Linked DNA regions of Homo sapiens: region 2 is linked to region 1. Evidence: fine-mapped expression QTL. Tissue or cell type: whole blood. Region 1 holds a variant in brackets; the other region holds the start of a gene. All regions are shown on one strand. Distances are between the middles of the regions.

Evidence for each region. PIP is the estimated chance that this variant, and not a neighbour inherited with it, causes the effect.
Region 2: SIMC1 starts here. The variant in region 1 is fine-mapped to the expression of SIMC1 in whole blood (INTERVAL, PIP 0.94).

Annotation. Positions count from the first base shown.
Region 1 is chr5:176,081,092-176,089,427 of GRCh38, forward strand. It overlaps the pseudogene FAM153B. Among named protein-coding and RNA genes, the nearest start is that of THOC3-AS1, 110 kb to the left of the region's middle. The variant A/AT (reference allele first, on the strand shown) is at 3,981.
Region 2 is chr5:176,235,226-176,243,561 of GRCh38, forward strand. SIMC1 (SUMO interacting motifs containing 1) reads left to right here and starts at 3,199. Exons shown (of 10, transcript NM_001308195.2): 1 at 3,199-3,412. The coding sequence starts at 3,284. RefSeq lists silencers at 2,871-2,990, 3,041-3,160.

The DNA.
Region 1 (8,336 bases):
CAATTTTGTTGATCTTTTCAAAAAACCAGCTCCTGGATTCATTGATTTTTTGAAGGGCTTTTTGTGTCTCTGTTTCCTTCAGTTCTGCTCTGATCTTAGTTATTTCTTGCTTCTGCTAGCTTTTGAATGTGTTTCCTCTTGCTTCTGTAGTTCTTTTAATTGTGATGTTAGGGTGTTAATTTTAGATCTTTCCTGCTTTCTCTTGTGGGCATTTAGTGCTATAAATTTCCCTCTAACACACTGCTTTAAATGTGTCCCAGAGATTCTGGTATGTTGTGTCTTTGTTCTCGTTGGTTTCAAAGAAGATCTTTATTTCTGCCTTCATTTTGTTATGTAGCCAGTAGTCATTCAGGAGCAGGTTGTTCAGTTTCCATGTAGTTGAGTGGTTTTGAGTGAGTTTCTTAATCCTGAGTTCTAGTTTGATTGCACTGTGGTCTGAGAGACAGTTTGTTATAACTTCTGTTCTTTTACATTTGCTGAGGAGTGCTTTACTTCCAACTATGTGGTCAGTTTTGGAATAAGTGCGATGTGGTGCTGAGAAGAACGTATATTCTGTTGATTTGGGGTGGAGAGTTCTGTAGATGTCTATTAGGTCTGCTTGGTGCAGAGCTGAGTTCAATTCCTGGATATCCTTGTTAACTTTCTGTCTCGTGGATCTGTCTAATGTTGACAGTGGGGTGTTACAGTCTCCCATTATTATTGTGTGGGAGTCTAAGTCTCTTTGTAGGTCTCTAAGGACTTGCTTTATGAATCTGGGGGCTCCTGTATTGGGTGCATATATATTTAGGATAGTTAGCTGTTCTTGTTGAATTGATCCCTTTACCATTATGTAATGGCCTTCTTTGTCTATTTTGATCTTTGTTGGTTTAAAGTCTGTTTTATCAGAGATTAGGATTGCAACCCCTGCCTTTTTTTATTTTCCATTTGCTTGGTAGATCTTCCTCCATCCCTTTATTCTGAGCCTATGTGTGTCTCTGCACGTGAGATGGGTTTCCTGAATATAGCACACTGATGGGTCTTGACTCTTTATCCAATTTGCCAGTCTGTGTCTTTTAATTGGAGCATTTAGCCCATTTACATTTAAGGTTAATATTGTTATGTGTGAATTTGATCCTGTCGTTATGATGTTAGCTGGTTATTTTGCTCGTTAGTTGACGCAGTTTCTTCCTAGCCTTGATGGTCTTTACAATTTGGCATGGTTTTGCAGTGGCTGGTACCGGTTGTTCCTTTCCATGTTTAGTGCTTCCTTCAGGAGCTCTTGTAGGGCAGGCCTGGTGGTGACAAAATCTCTCAGCATTTGCTTGTCTGTAAAGGATTTTATTTCTCCTTCACTTATGAAGCTTAGTTTGGCTGGATATGAAATTCTGGGTTGAAAATTCTTTTCTTTAAGAATGTTGAATATTGGCCCCCACTCTCTTCTGGCTTGTAGAGTTTATGCCGAGAGATCAGCTGTTAGTCTGATGGGCTTCCCTTTGTGGGTAACCTGACCTTTCTCTCTGGCTGCCCTTAACATTTTTTCCTTCATTTCAGCTTTGGTGAATCTGACAATTATGTGTCTTGGAGTTGCTCTTCTCGAGGAGTATCTTTGTGGCATTCTCTGTATTTCCTGAATTTGAATGTTGGCCTGCCTTGCTAGATTGGGGAAGTTCTCCTGGATAATATCCTGCAGAGTGTTTTCCAACTTGGTTCCATTCTCCCCGTCACTTTCAGGTACACCAATCAGACATAGATTTGGTCTTTTCACATAGTCCCATATTTCTTGGAGGCTTTGTTTGTTTCTTTTTATTCTTTTTTCTCTAAACTTCTCTTCTCGCTTCATTTCATTCATTTGATCTTCCATCACTGATACCCTTTCTTCCAGTTGATCGAATTGGCTACTGAGGCTTGTGCATTTGTCACATAGTTCTCATGCCATGGTTTTCAGCTCCATCAGGTCATTTAAGGACTTCTCTGCATTGGTTATTCTAGTTAGCCATTCATTTAATCTTTTTTCAAGGTTTTTAACTTCTTTGCCATTGGTTTGAACTTCCTCCTTTAGCTCGGAGAAGTTTGATCATCTGAATCCTTCTTCTCTACTCGTCAAAGTCATCCTCCATCCAGCTTTGTCCTGTTACTGGTGAGGAGCTGCGTTCCTTTGGAGGAGGAGAGGCACTCTGATTTTTAGAATTTTGAGTTTTTCTGCTCTGTTTTTCCCCATCTTTGTGGTTTTATCTACCCTTGGTCTTTGATGATGGTGACATACAGATGGGGTTTTGGTGTGGATGTCCTTTCTCTGTTTGTTAGTTATCCTTCTAACAGCCAGGACCCTCAGCTGCAGGTCTGTTGGAGTTTGCTGGAGGTCCACTCCAGACCTTGTTTGCCTGGGTGTCAGCAGTGGAGGCTGCAGAACAGCGAATATTGAGGAACAGCAAATGATGCTGCCTGATTGTTCCTCTGGAAGTTTTGTCTCAGAGGAGTAGCTGGCCATGTGAGGTGTCAGTCTGCCCCTACTGGGTGGTGCCTCCCAGTTAGGCTACTCGGGGGTCAGGGACCCACTTGAGGAGGCAGTCTGTCCGTTCTCAGATCTCAAACTGTGTGCTGGGAGAACCACTACTCTCTTCAAAGCTGTCAGACAGGGACATTTAAGTCTGCAGAGGTTTCTGCTGCCTTTTGTTTGGCTATGCCCTGCCCCCAGAGGTGGAGTCTACAGAGGCAGGCAGGCCTCCTTGAGCTGCGGTGGGCTCCACCCAGTTAGAGCTTCCCAGCCACTTTGTTTACCTACTCAAGCCTGGGCAATGGCGGGCGCCCCTACCCCAGCCTCGCTGCAGCCTTGCAGTTTGATCTCAGACTGCTGTGCTAGCAATGAGCGAGGCTCCATGGGCGTAGGACCCTCCGAGCCAGGTGCAGGATATAATCTCCTGGTGTGCCGTTGGCTAAGACCATTGGAAAAGCGCAGTATTAGGGTGGGAGTGACCTGATTTTCCAGGTGCTGTCTGTCATCCCTTTCCTTGGCTAGGGGAGGGAATTCCCTGACCCTTTGCACTTCCCGGGTGAGGCAATGCCTTGCCCTGCTTCGGCTCACACTCAGTGCGCTGCACCCACTGTCCTGCACCCACTGTCCTACAATCCCCAATGAGATGAACCTGGTACCTCAGTTGGAAATGCAGAAATCATTCGTATTCTGCATCGCTCATGCTGGGAGCTGCAGACTGGAGTTGTTCCTATTCGGCCATCTTGGCTCCACCCCCTATTAATGCAGTTTTTGTGCCTCATTAATGACCCATTTGATTTAATAGTTCTTAAAACTTGTGATGAATCAACAGTGATGGAAAGTTGTACTGAATCATATCTTTTTTTATTACTATGAATTATATTGTTAGAGATTGGCTTTAAAATTGAAGTTACACTAATGCATTTTAAATGTAATTTGGAGCTAGTTTAGAATTGTTGAAGCTAGGACTCTCTGGTGACTCAGGAATAGTAGAAATTGGTGGGGAAGGCATTTCACATCAAGCCTGGAATCTCCCTTTATTCTCAATGTATTAGCTTTTCTTATCTTTACCCTGAAATTTTCACTATCAAATATATTTGAGAGGCAAATCTTTTTCCTCCTTTAATGTTTGTTTCATACACATAGAATAATACTGTGTGTCTGAGATTCAGTTTTTGAAATGAAACATGGAGTCTAAGTGACCCCTTGTCGATGTGACAATGGACTGGTCTAGATCACAGCAGTTGGGCCCCATATTGTGACATGGATGCTTGCGAAAATTCTACTGTGACCTGTTGCTGAGGTGATCTGATGATATAGGTCTTGCCTTTCATTTTAACTGCCATTCTGGCAACTGAACGTTGGCAGTAAACGCAGCTTAGTTGTCTCAGAGGACTCACAATGGGATGTGCTTATAGTTGTTGCCTCGAAGGTATGTATGTTCATTTCCATCTTCTGACTGCAATTTCTTCAGATAAGCCAGTTTTCCTGTACGTTAAATGTCATTCTG[A/AT]TTTTTTTTTATTTCCCCAGCTCCTATTTGTCTACAGATTTATAAATATGTTTCAGAGTTTTATTACTCAATTTGTGTTTTTTTATTCTTCTATCAAGATTTTTGCCTCAAATACTTTTCTCTAGAAAATACACTGCTTCCAATGCCAATTTTTTTTTTTTTTTTTTTTTTTTTGGAAGAGTCTTGCTCTGTTGCCTAGGCTAGAATGCAGTGGTGTGATAATGGCTCACAGCAACCTCCACCTCCCAGGTTTAAGCAATTCTCCTGCCTCAGCCTCCTGAGTAGCTGGGATTACAGGCATCCGCCACCACGCCTGGCTAATTTTCGTATGTTTAGTAGAGACAGGGTTTTACAATGTTGGCAAGGGAGGTCTTGAACTTCTGACCTCCTGATCCACCTTCCTTGGCCTCCCAAAGTGATGGGATTATAGGCATGAGCCACAGAGCCTGGACTTTTCTTTTCTTTTTTTTTTTTGGCAGAGTCTCATTCTGTCACCCAGGCTGGAGTGCAGTGGCACAATCTCAGCTCTTTGCAACCTCTGCATCCCAGGTTCAAGCGATTCTCCTGCCTCAGCCTCCCAAGTAGCTGGGACTACGGGTGCCTGCCACCATGCCTGGCTAATTTTTGTATTTTTAGTAGAGACAGGGTTTCACCATATTGACCAGGCTGGTCTTGAACTCCTGACCTTGTGATCTGCCCACCTTGGCCTCCCAAAGTGCTGGGATACAGGTGTGAGCCACCACACCCGGCCTCCCCCGCCACACACACTCTTTCATAGACTAGATACAGAATAAACTGCTGAAAAATCCACTGGGGGGCCACATTTTCAGTTAATTCCCATTAATTGCTTCTTCAGAATGGTTCAGTTGAAGGGAAGTTTATTCTTGGCACAGCCATCAAGTGGTAGTTAGTTTGGAAGGTCCTAAGTTCCGAACTACCTTGGGGGCCAAGCAGAACTTGGTCCCTTGCTGTGGTCAGTTGGTCATGGAGGGGTGCTCACTGCCAGACAGCTGACAATACAGGGCAATGGGTAGGATGACCAGACATTTGAATTTGTTCCTCAGAGAGGCTTCGTTTGCAGGAAAGTGCCATATTTTAGCCCAGGAGTTAAAACCTAGAGACAGGAGTTTTGTTTTGTTAAATGATTTGGCTTTTTTCTGGACTCACCACCTCTTCCAAATACATCAACCTTCCTGAAGAGCCCTTGGTGCAGGAGGATTGAGAAAGGGAGTGGAAAGAGCTCCAGGTTCAGGGTCCAGGCCATGATTTAGAGGCCTCAGGTATTCAGGGATCTCTGTCCCCAGAAAACCAGCCAAATTCTTGTCCCAGATCTATCATTCGTCAGTGTTGTGACCCTAGGCAGGTCGCTTCAAATCTCTTCATTTCACTTCCCTGAACCGTCACCTCTGAGTGGCAGCCCCTGCTCTGCCCATCTCTCTGGGCCTATGTGGGCATCACAGGAAATTCAAACAAAAACTTTTCACGAGTTCTAAAGCATGAGACCCATGTCAAGAATGAAAAGAATTTTAGCCTCCACTGCCCTGGAGTCCCCCAAGTGGCTTCTCTATTAACCACTACCAAGGGCCTGGCTTATTCTTCCAGACATGAAATAATTGAACACTTTATGGCACTTAGGAAGCACCCGTTTTAAGGCTTTAGGTCCATTTAACTATTCTTACCCTTTTAACATAACGTAGGCCATTAGGAGGCACAGAGGGATCTATAGAACTTCCTCAGGTTCTAGCAGCTTCTCAGAAGTCCCTGAGCTCAGATCCTATGCTCCGGACCCTATGCTCTTGGTCACTCCAATCTACTACCTTTCTGTAATGTCTCATCTCAATACAGGCATTTGCCTGCACACTTATACGTGCAACCCACAGTGCAAGTCTTTCTGAAGCCCAACTCAGATTCAGGGGGCTTTGCTCTGCAGATGATGAACAATGGAATCAAACATTTAAGCTGTGAATAAATAATTACTCATTTCTCTGATCTTTTGCGGCAAGACACCAACACCTGTCTTTATTTTAATTCATTTCCCAGTGTGTTGTGGCGAGGATGAAATAGTGTATCCTAGGATGCCAGGGGAATCCACCGTCTGCCACCGCGAGCGTGAGAAGCCAATCACCTATCACTGGTATCACTGGCATCCCGGCCATATATACCCTAGAGTTGCATCAATGGAAGGTGTTGTGGAAATTCAGTCATTCAGTTCATTCATGATATGATTTCTAGATTCTTCAGTGTCTCATATTTCAGACAATTATAAAATTGCGATGCTATATTCTTTATTTCATGTGTGCATATTTAAATGTGTTAAGTCAATCACTAGTGCTACAACCAGAGGAGTAAAGGTGTATTTCCATTCCAGATTTGGGTTTACTTTTAATAGTAAATAACATCTCAGTGCAAATTGTAGACATTTTGCTGATTGTTAAAACATTAATTAAAAAGGATCTTTTTCTGAGACAGTGTTGCCAGGTTTGTAAAGTAATGGACATCACTTCAAACTGTTTGGAAGTAACCGAAAAATGGAGGAAGTGGCAACAAAACTTTCCATATACCCACCTTCCTCAGTATTTTTTGGTGATCCCATCTTTGTGAGTGTGATAACGCTCGTAACAATGACTGAGCCAATAGTGATACATTCTTATGAACAGAAGTCCAAGGTTAGCATCAGTGACTGAGCCAATAGTGATACATTCTTATGAACAGAAATCTAGGGTTAGCATCAAGGTTCACTCTGTGTTGTCCAGCCTATGGGTTTTGACAAACTGACAATGTCTTTTGTCACCCTGACGGAATAATTTCACATCCTACACATGACCTGAGCTGCATCTACTAATTCCTCTCCTTTTCTGAGGATTCCTGACAACTATGGATGATTTTACTGCCTCTATAGGTTTCCTTTTCCAGAATTGTATAGAGTTGGAATCATAGAGTATGTAGCTACGTATAACTAACTTATTTTACTTAGCAATATACATGTAAGATCTTTTGTATCGTTTTGAAGCTTAACAGCTTAATAATTCTTATCAGTGAACAATAGTCCATTGGTTTCATCGAACAGGGTTAGTTGGTTCACTCACTGCCTGAAGACCATCTGAGCTGCTTCCAATTTGGGTAATTATGAATAAAGCTGCCCACATTCTTGTGCAGATTTTAAGATGAACATAATTTTCTAATTTAGCTGGGTAAATATGTAGAATTTTGATCACTTGCTGGTAAGACTATGTTTTCCATTGTGTTAGGCAGAATTCACCAGTACAATTATGTGGGCATTTTTTTTTAAGTTATTACTTCCTGATTAAATTCTATAATGATAGAGGCCTACTCAGATTATCTATCTCTCCTTTGGGTGGTTATGGTAGTTTCTCCCTTTGAAGGCATTTGTCCATTTCATCTAAGCTAGGAAATTTGTGGGTGTAGACACTTGAATCTGACAAGTTGCCTGCTTGGTTCTCATCAAAGGCTACTGTGCTTCCTGTCATTCCTACTCTCAAACTTTTCAATAGACTTTCACTCCTGCACTTAAAAAATTGCAGGCATAGATTTGTTGAAAGTATTCTGTTATTATTTTCTTAATGATTATGGGATCAGCAAGGATAATTCCTCTTCTATTCATATTGTTTGTACATCGTGTCTTCTGTATTTTCTTTGTGATTAGCCTTGCTGGAGGTTTACCAATTCTATTGATCTTTTCTAAGAAGCAGCTTTTGGTTTTGTTGAGTTTCTTTATTTTATTATTTCTATTACATTGATTTCTGCAAATATTGTTATATTTTGGGGGAGGAGTGTTGCCTGGTTTACATTACACTACACTTTTTTCTCTAGTTTCCTAAGGTGGAAAGTAAGACATCTGGATTTGGATTACATTTAGTTTACTGCACAGAATTGTGAATGGCACTGATGCCCCTGAAGTGTGCACTTGATTATTAAAATAATAAATATGATGTATTTTGGCCACAATACTGATTTTAAAGCCAATTAAATGGATGATAAGTACAGGAGGAGCATATGTAGATCAAGGAAAGATAAATGACATTATAACATTTCAACAACAAAAGAAATTTACCGGGCCTCAAAATGCACAAGGGGGTGATGGGACACTGTCATGAAATCAGCAGTGCATTTGTGTGCCACCCTGTGTGAACTCTGCCTTTTTTGCAGTGGTGTGGGGGCTTAGCCAGAGAACCAGGTCCTGACTTCTGTGGCTTCCTGATGGTCTCATTTGCCTTCCCTCATCACCCAGGAGGGTGTCCCAGTGGCAGCCAAGTTTCTACCCTTAACCCACCTCCTTTACACATGCCAGCCCCCTGTCCTTAGCATCCAAGGTTGCCTAAGGGATTCCTTCAGTGG
Region 2 (8,336 bases), 150 kb after region 1:
CTTCACAGCCAGTATTCATCCCACCTGGGTTGCCAAGTAAGGGCAGGGTACTTTTAAGCTGTTCTCGTATTATACCACCAGGGGTCCTGAGTTTCCTGTATTTCAGGCAGGATGGCTGATGAGAAAGATACAATCTGAACACTCTTGTGTCTTGCCACAGTAGAGTAGGCCAGAGCTTGGCTAGAATCAGCAGCAGAGGCCAAAAGAAGTAGAGGGATGCAGGAGATGTTTAGGAGGTAAAACAGACAGGACTTGTTGAGGAAAGGGGAGAGATCAAGTGCAATGCTCAGGTTTTTCACTTCAGCAATTGCTGGCTGGTGGAGCCATCACCATAAGACACACAAAGAGAGCAGGCTTTTTTGTGGGTGTGGGGAGCATAAAGGTGAGTTTGGCTTTAGACATATTCAACCTGAGAGGCCTACGAGCTTCAGCAGATGTTTGGATGTATACAACTGGAGTTTTAAGGACAGGACTGGGCTGAGATAAACTCGTGGCAGCCATTGGCATAAAACCAATCACTGAAGCCAGGGAATAGTTGAGATTGTAGAGGGAAGAGGTCCCGTGTGAAAAGGTGGCCAATGTCAGGACTCTAAGGGACATCAAGAGTTTAAGGAGTGAGTAGAGGAGTAGGCGTCAGCTAAGGAGACTAAAAAAAAGTGGTGAGAGAAGTACAGCATCACAGAAACCTACAGAAGACAGTGTTTCAGCAAGCAGGTAGTCAGACACACCAAATGGTTGTGTATTTTGTTTCGTTTTGTTTTATTGAGACAGGGTCTCACCCTATTGCCCCGACTGGAGTGTAGGGGCAGTATCATAGCTCACTGCAGCCTCCAATTCCTGGGCTCAAGGGATCCTCCTGCCTCAGCTGCCTGAGTAGCTAGGACCACAGGCATGCGCTACCACACCTGGCTAATTTGTTTTTATTTTTGTAGAGACAGGGTCTTGCTATATTGCCCAGGCTAGTCTCAAACTCCTGGCCTCAAGCTATTCTCCCAACTCGGCCTCCCAAAGTGCTGGGATTACAGGTGTGAGAGATCACAACCCTAAATGTTTAATAGCTTTAGATGAAGACAACTTAATGAATCCTTTCACAAGGGTGACTTCACCCATTGGACCAGAATGTCTGAAATCTGCTGGGCATAAACTCCCCGTCCACCAGACCAGTGGTTCTCACAGTGTGGTCCCCAGACTAGCAGCATCCACATCACCTGGGCACTTGTTAGAAATGCAAATTTCAGGGCCCCACCCCCAAAATTCTTTTTCTCAATCAGAAAATCTGATGTGTGATTGTTAGTTCATTCTCGAATTGCTATAAAGAAATACCTGAGACTGAGTAATTTATAAAGAAAAGGGGTTTAATTGGCTCACGGTTGTGCAAGCAGTACAGGAAGCATAGTAGCATCTGCTTCTGGGGAGGTCTCAGGAACCTTACTATCAAGACGGAAGGCGAAGGGGGAGTGGACATCACATGGGGAAAGGGGCGAGGTGGGAGGTGCCACACACTTTTAAACAACCAGATCTCAAGAGAACTCGTTATCACAAGGACCGTACCAAAGGGATGGTACTAAACCATTCATAAGAAACCACCCCCATGATCCAATCACCTCCCACCAGTCCCCACCTCTAATATCGGGGATTACAATTCAACATGAGACTTGGGTGGGGACGCAGATCCAAACCATACCAGCAACCCAGCAATCTGTATTTTGTTGAGTTTTTTGTTTTTGTTTTTTTGAGATGGAGCCTTGCTCTGTCCCCCAGGCTGGAGTGCAATGGCACGATCTCGGCTCACTGCAACCTCCGCCTCCCAGATTCAAGCAATTCTCCTGCCTCAGCTTCCCAAGTAGCTGGGATTACAGGCGCCTGCCACCATGCCCAGCTAATTTTTGTATTTTTAGTAGAGACGAGGTGGGCCAGGCTGGTCTCGAACTCCTGACCTCAAGTGATCCACCCGCCTCGGCCTCCCAGAGTGCTGAGATTACAGGCGTGAGCCGCCGCACCCGGCCGCAATCTGTCTTAACAAACACTCTAGGGGATTCTGATGCTCACCAAAGTGTGAAAAACACTGCATTAGACAGTGCTTGGAGAGCACCTGATAACCATTCCTTTAGGAACAAATTCCCCTCCTATTAAACACATTATTCTTTGGATCTGTTAACATATTTTGCAAAACTTCTGGAGCCTGAGCAGCAGGATTTTGTCAATACCCCACATTTAGTGTACCAATAGGTCCTATCTTGATTTTAATGGTCCTGCCCTAAAACCAACCAACCAGCCAACTACCCACCGATTCCTCTACTGGGGACAACCTTTTTCACCTTTATAACTTCTGCTTATTCACAACATCTAATTATTCATGGCCTCTGCTACTTCATGGCTTCTTTTGTGCACCTTTTCAGCTTCTGATCCTGATACCAACTGAACAACTGTCTACGTCAAACTTGTTTAACTCCCTGTTTAACATTAAGAGATTTTTTTTTTCGCAACTCTTTTCCTTTAGGTCATCAGCTATCATTAGTGTATTTTATGTATGGCCCAACACAATTCTTCTTCCTGGGGAAGCCAAAAGATTGGACACCCCTGCTCTAAATCTCAGTTTAAACTCCTGAGAGACACATATTGTTGGTGAAATCGCAAACTGGTACAATTTAGGAGGGTAATTTGGCATCATTTATCAAAACTACAAAAACATGGCCTTTGCCCCAATAAGTCCGCTTTTAGGCATTTATCCTACAGATACACATGGGCGTGTGCACCAAAAAGTGGGGTCTCTCTCTCTCCCTTAGCTCGGCCAGAAGCCAGGTCACCTACCCTCGGTCACTCGGGGGCCAGGACCTCTCTCCCTGCCCCTCAGTCAAGGCCCTCTCAGTCCGGGAGGCGCTTCACACCTGGGCAGGGTGGGACTGGGCGCGCCTCACTTCACGCTTTCGTCGGTTGGAAGCAGGTGGGGAAGTCCCCGCGGCCTCGGCGTCTCGCACGCCTGGCCCCAACACCTGCCGAAGCCGGCTGCGACTCCATTTTTCTTTTTTTTTTTCCTCCTGGGAAACGGAGGACCCGCGCCGCCACGAAGCACAGCGACCCCGGCCCTGACCCCAGCCGCCCGCCGCCGGTGGGCGGGGCTTGGCGGCCCGGCGGGGCGGGGCTCGGGGCGGGGCCGGCGTGGCGGTGGCCCGGGTTGTAGCCGCCGCCGCTGCCGCCGCCCCGCCGCCGCCACCTCAGAAGCAGGAACCGAAGTCGTCGCCGCCGCCGCCACTGCCTGGGTCTTCGGTCGGGGCCCGCAGCCATGGAGGATTTCATCGTGATCTCGGACGACAGCGGCTCTGAGAGCTCCGGGGGCGCCCGCCCGGGCCGGTCGCGGAGGCCGCGCCGGGCCCTGTCGCGAACCTCCGGCGCGCTGCCCCGCCGGACCGTGGTGAGTGAGCGTCGCCTCGTTTGGGGGCGCGCGTCTTCGCGACCCTCGGCTGGGCCCGCCGCCCGCTTCCCGCCCCTGGCGCCTCACAGCTGCAGCCACTTCCCGCCTTGCCTCCTTCCGGGCCTCTCGGGCCCCGGGGAGCGCGGCGGGCCGGGGCAGGGGCCAGGGCAGGGACCGGGGAGGCCGGGCCTCCCAGGCTCAGCGCTGAAGCCCGAGAGGACTGCGGCTGGAAAGCGGCCGAGCACATGGACGAGCTCCTGGCGCGCCTGCTGCAGGGGCTGGGGTCTCAGGCCGGGGCCGCGGGCGTCCTCGGAGCCTCGGCGGGACGTGGGGGCTCGGGTGTACTGGCCGGGCCGATGCAGGAAAGCGGGAGCGCGTAATTCTTCGGCCTGTGGTGGACACAGATGTGTGCAGGGAGGTAACAGGAGCCCAGGCTGGGAGGGAGGGAAGCGCGGGCCTGGGCCAGATGGTGGCCGCGCTCCAGGGCCTGACTGCAGAGCGAGGGGCCCGATTTTGGAGTTGTACAGGAGGGCGATTTATTTCCTCAGCACTTACCCTGTACCAAGCCCTGAAGGAATAGGGAAGGAAACCTCGCGCGCTATTTCTGTTTCCCTCAGAACCCCTTCGTCTTTGTCGTTCATGAGGTGGTGAATTATCTGCCTTTCGAGAATCCTGCATCGATGTTTATTGAATCCCTACTATGAGCCAGATGTTGTAGGGGCCGGGGATACAACGGCGAACACAATATCCATGGTCCCCTCAGAAGGTGATACATCATCAGGTGGTTGTTGAGGACCTACTCAAGCGGTGGGAGGTGGAGCTTTCTCTCAGAAGGCTTCCAACGATCTCCCCAGCCTCCCAGAGCCATCCCCCGGAAACACAAGGATTATCAAGCTGATGTTATGTGTATAGATCATACAGTTTACCATGCTTCCTATGCAAATACTCGTTCAAGACGTTTCCTAGCTTCTGCTGCCCCTGTTCCCTTTCTAGCTGGTTTACAGTCCCTAAACCTCCATTGGGAACCCCTTCTGTGCCCGAGGTACAGTGCCAAGTGCTAGATGATCACTATAGAATGAATAGCATGCAAAACTAGTTAATATATATTATTTTTCAAGCAAGAGGGTTTCTCAGGACGTCTTAGAGACAAATTTAGTTGAGTTAGGCAGCTCATGAGGTAGTGAGAGAAGAGATTTCCAAGATAGAAATGACCCGACTTCATGAGTGAATGGATATATCTAGGGCTGTGGCTGAATGTATCGGACATAATAGATGCACAATAAGTATTTGTTGGATGAAGGAACGATTGAAAGAATATGGGGAGAGAGAATGGTTTAGATGGATGTTTGATAAGTATAAGAGAAGTGCATATAAAAGTAGCAGCAGGCTTGAGATGAAGGAGATGCTGAATTCAGGTTGGACCTGTTGGATTTACAGTGTTAATAGGAAATGTAGATGGATGTGGCCAGCTCAGTAGTTGGAGAAAAGGCAAGAATGGAGATATTTGGCAATCATGCAAACAGAAAGGAGTATTGAAGGCCTAATAGTGACTGAGATCATCAAGGAAAAGAGTAGAGAGAGAAAAAAGGTGGAAGGGAAAAAATACTTCTTTCCTCCTAGTTCCTCCTCATTCCTATAGCCTCTTCTCTCACTACCTGTTTAACTTTGTCCTTCCCACTTGCTTCCTTTCCTCCCAAGTGTTGTCCATTTTCCCTCATTCTGGTCCAGCTTCCTTCTTCAGTGGTCAGATGCCATGCTTATCTCAGTCTTTTGTGGTCTTTCACATACGTACATGGGCGTAGTCTCTCACTGTTTCCCTCACTTGTGACCACTCAAGCAAGCATTTTGATCTTGAGCCTTTGAGTTGAATCGAAATGAGGGGCAAGTTCCAGAGAGCAGTACCCAATTTAAATCGTGCTTCTCCAGATATTTATTCCAGCTCTCTAAAAGCTCCAAGCTTATTCTCGTTTTATCTTTTTTGCAAATTAGATAAGAGTGGTATGATAACCATGTAAAAGATCAGAGGCATTGAGAGACTTGCAAGGTTATAAAGTCTAAAAGTGCCCTTTTCTTTGTAGCTTTTCCTGAAGGCTCTGAGGTCAGAGAGACTTCTGAATCAATATCTCCAGCATAGCAACTATTTGAGTTTTGGAAAGTTCTGTCAACTCTCAGCTTTTGAGCCTGAGAACATTAATGCCTACCTAGCAGGATGGTTTTAAATTTTTAATGAGACAAATGCAAGGAAAGGATCTCATATAAATGATAGCTTTTGCCACTTTTTGTGTTGTTTCTAAGCCCAGGCCTGTCCCTCTTGAGCTTCACAGGCAATGAAATAAAAGAAGCAACTTTTACATCTTTTTTTTTTTTTTTTAATAGATATTGACTAAGGGGAAGTAACTTGCTTGAACTTGAGAAAGCCATGTCTAATGCTGAAGTTGACATTTCTGAACTCTTGATTCTTAACCTGGGCTTTAGTCTTCACTGAGTCGATGAGGTGTGTTTCTGTGTTTATCATGGCTTTTTCGTTTGGGATTTTTTGTTTTTCGTTTTTTTACTTATAAAAACAGAACATTTTCAGATGGTTAATTTTGTTGATCTAATTATACAATTTTTATAAATGTATAAAGAAGAAAATTAAAATTGCCCGTAATCTCACTATCCAAAGATAACCAATGTTAACATTTTGATGTATGTCTATGTAAATGTTTACTTGCATACACACATGTGCATACATACATACCTATGTGTCCTCCCCATACATGTTTTTATGACCTCCTCTTAATGGATATTATGCCTTCGTTTCTAAATTTTCTCTAAGAACCCAGTGAAAAATTCCCTCATAATCTTTGTACTCTTGTTCATTTGTTTATTAAGTTCCTCTTAGAAGTTAGATTGCTGAGTCAAAAGGTGTGCCCTACTTTATATGTAGCTAACCCTTGAAGAACACGGGGATTAGGGTTGCTAACCCCCCCGTGCAGTTGAAAATTTACATGTAACATTTGACTCCTCGAAAACTTAACTACCAGTGGCCTACTGTTGACTGGAAGCCTTACCAGTAACATAAGCAGTTAACTCATGTTTTGTATGTTATATGGACTCTTACGATAAAGTAAGCAAGAGAAAAATGTTAAGATCATAAGGAAGATAAAATACATTTACAGTACTATACTGCATTTGTCAATACCATAGGTTTACATCGTCTGTTTACAAGATAAATCATCTGTCTGAAATAGGGGACAACCACAGCTGCAGACCTCTATCTACGGTACATCTCAAGCGATTCAGCTTTTCTTATGTCATGACTTTTCTCTGTTTCTTGAGAGCACATCCAGCATCACTAAGCACTTTGTATGGGTTTCATGGTGTTATTCAAGGTTTACGATATTACCCTACACATGATTAAACAAGTATATGTGGAAAAAAACCCAGGAGAGAACACTTGTTACCGTGATACACAGTTTACTGGGAAGTAGTGCAGAAATTGATTAGTGTCACGTGGCGTTTTAAGTGGATCCTCACAACACTTGAGCCCACCACAGCAGCAGCAGATGTCTGTGGTAGTAGGACATTATTATCACGGTAGTACAGTGTAGTCTATGGTAAATTTTATGCAGTTGTGATACAAATTAAAAAGAAAAAAATAATGAATTTAAAAATATGCAGTTGTGAGTTAATATTGCATCTTTACATTTCTGTCAACTGCAGATGTCACCATCTATGGTCAGTAAGTGATTGTGTGCATAAATTTTGATAAAGTTTAACTTTGTATAATAGATTTGTGTTGATTTTATGGTAGTAAATGGATAAAATAGGCTAGTATCTACATATATTTTATGCATTCAGGACATATCTTTTTCTTAGTTTTTTTCAATTTTTATAGGCTGTGGAGTTCATCTGTGAGTTTTCCAAATTGTTATAAATCGCCAAAAAATTTTCCAATATATTTATTGAAAAAAACTCTCTTGTAAGTGGACCCATGCAGTTCAAACCTGTGTTGTTCATGAATCAACTGTATTGCCAAATTTCCTACAGAAATTGTGCATTAATATTCTTACCAGTGGTATATGGCCAATCATATCTCTTTCTCTGCTGCCTAGTCACCCCTAGGTATTGTTACATTATTCCATAAATATTTATTGAACACTTATTATATACCAGGCACTCTTAGAGGTGCTGGGAATACATCTATGAAAACCAAGTCCCTGCCGTCATGGAGATTTCATTTTACTGAGGGGACACAGATAGTAAACAACACTATAAATGTAATGTCAGGTGATAATACAGAGTGTTAGGGGAAAAAATACGGTATTTTTGTTCTTTTAATCTTTGCTGTTTGATAGCCAGATTCCATAAGATGTCATTATTTTTTATTTTTTTATTATGATTCATTTATTCAATAAATATTTATTGAGCATATGCTGTAACCCTGGGGACCAGAGGTGAACAAGATGATAATGGAACTACATTCTACTGTGGAAAGATAGGCAGTAAACAAACTAACAAATAAGAGAACAGTATAATAGTAACTTTGGTGGGATTGGGAACATTTGATTGTGTTTTCAGAGAAGGCCTCTCTGAAGAGTTAATATTTGACCTGAGACTAAAATGACAACAAATTAGTTATAAGATCTAGATGAATAAGGCATTGTCAAAGGGAACAACAAAACCAAAAGTTTGGAGGCGGGAATGAGCATGACTTACTGGAAGAATGGAAAGCCAGTGAGGCTGCAATGTAACGACTGATGGACAGAGTCAGAAGAGATGAGAAGTAGGTAGGTTAGGTTATAGGGCTTTGGAGACCACAATAAGGGATTTGGATTTTATTGTAATACAGTAAGAAATCTTTGAAGGTTTAAGCAGGACAGTGACATGATTTGATTTACTTTTTTTTTTTTTGGAGATGGAGTCTTGCTCTGTTGCGTTG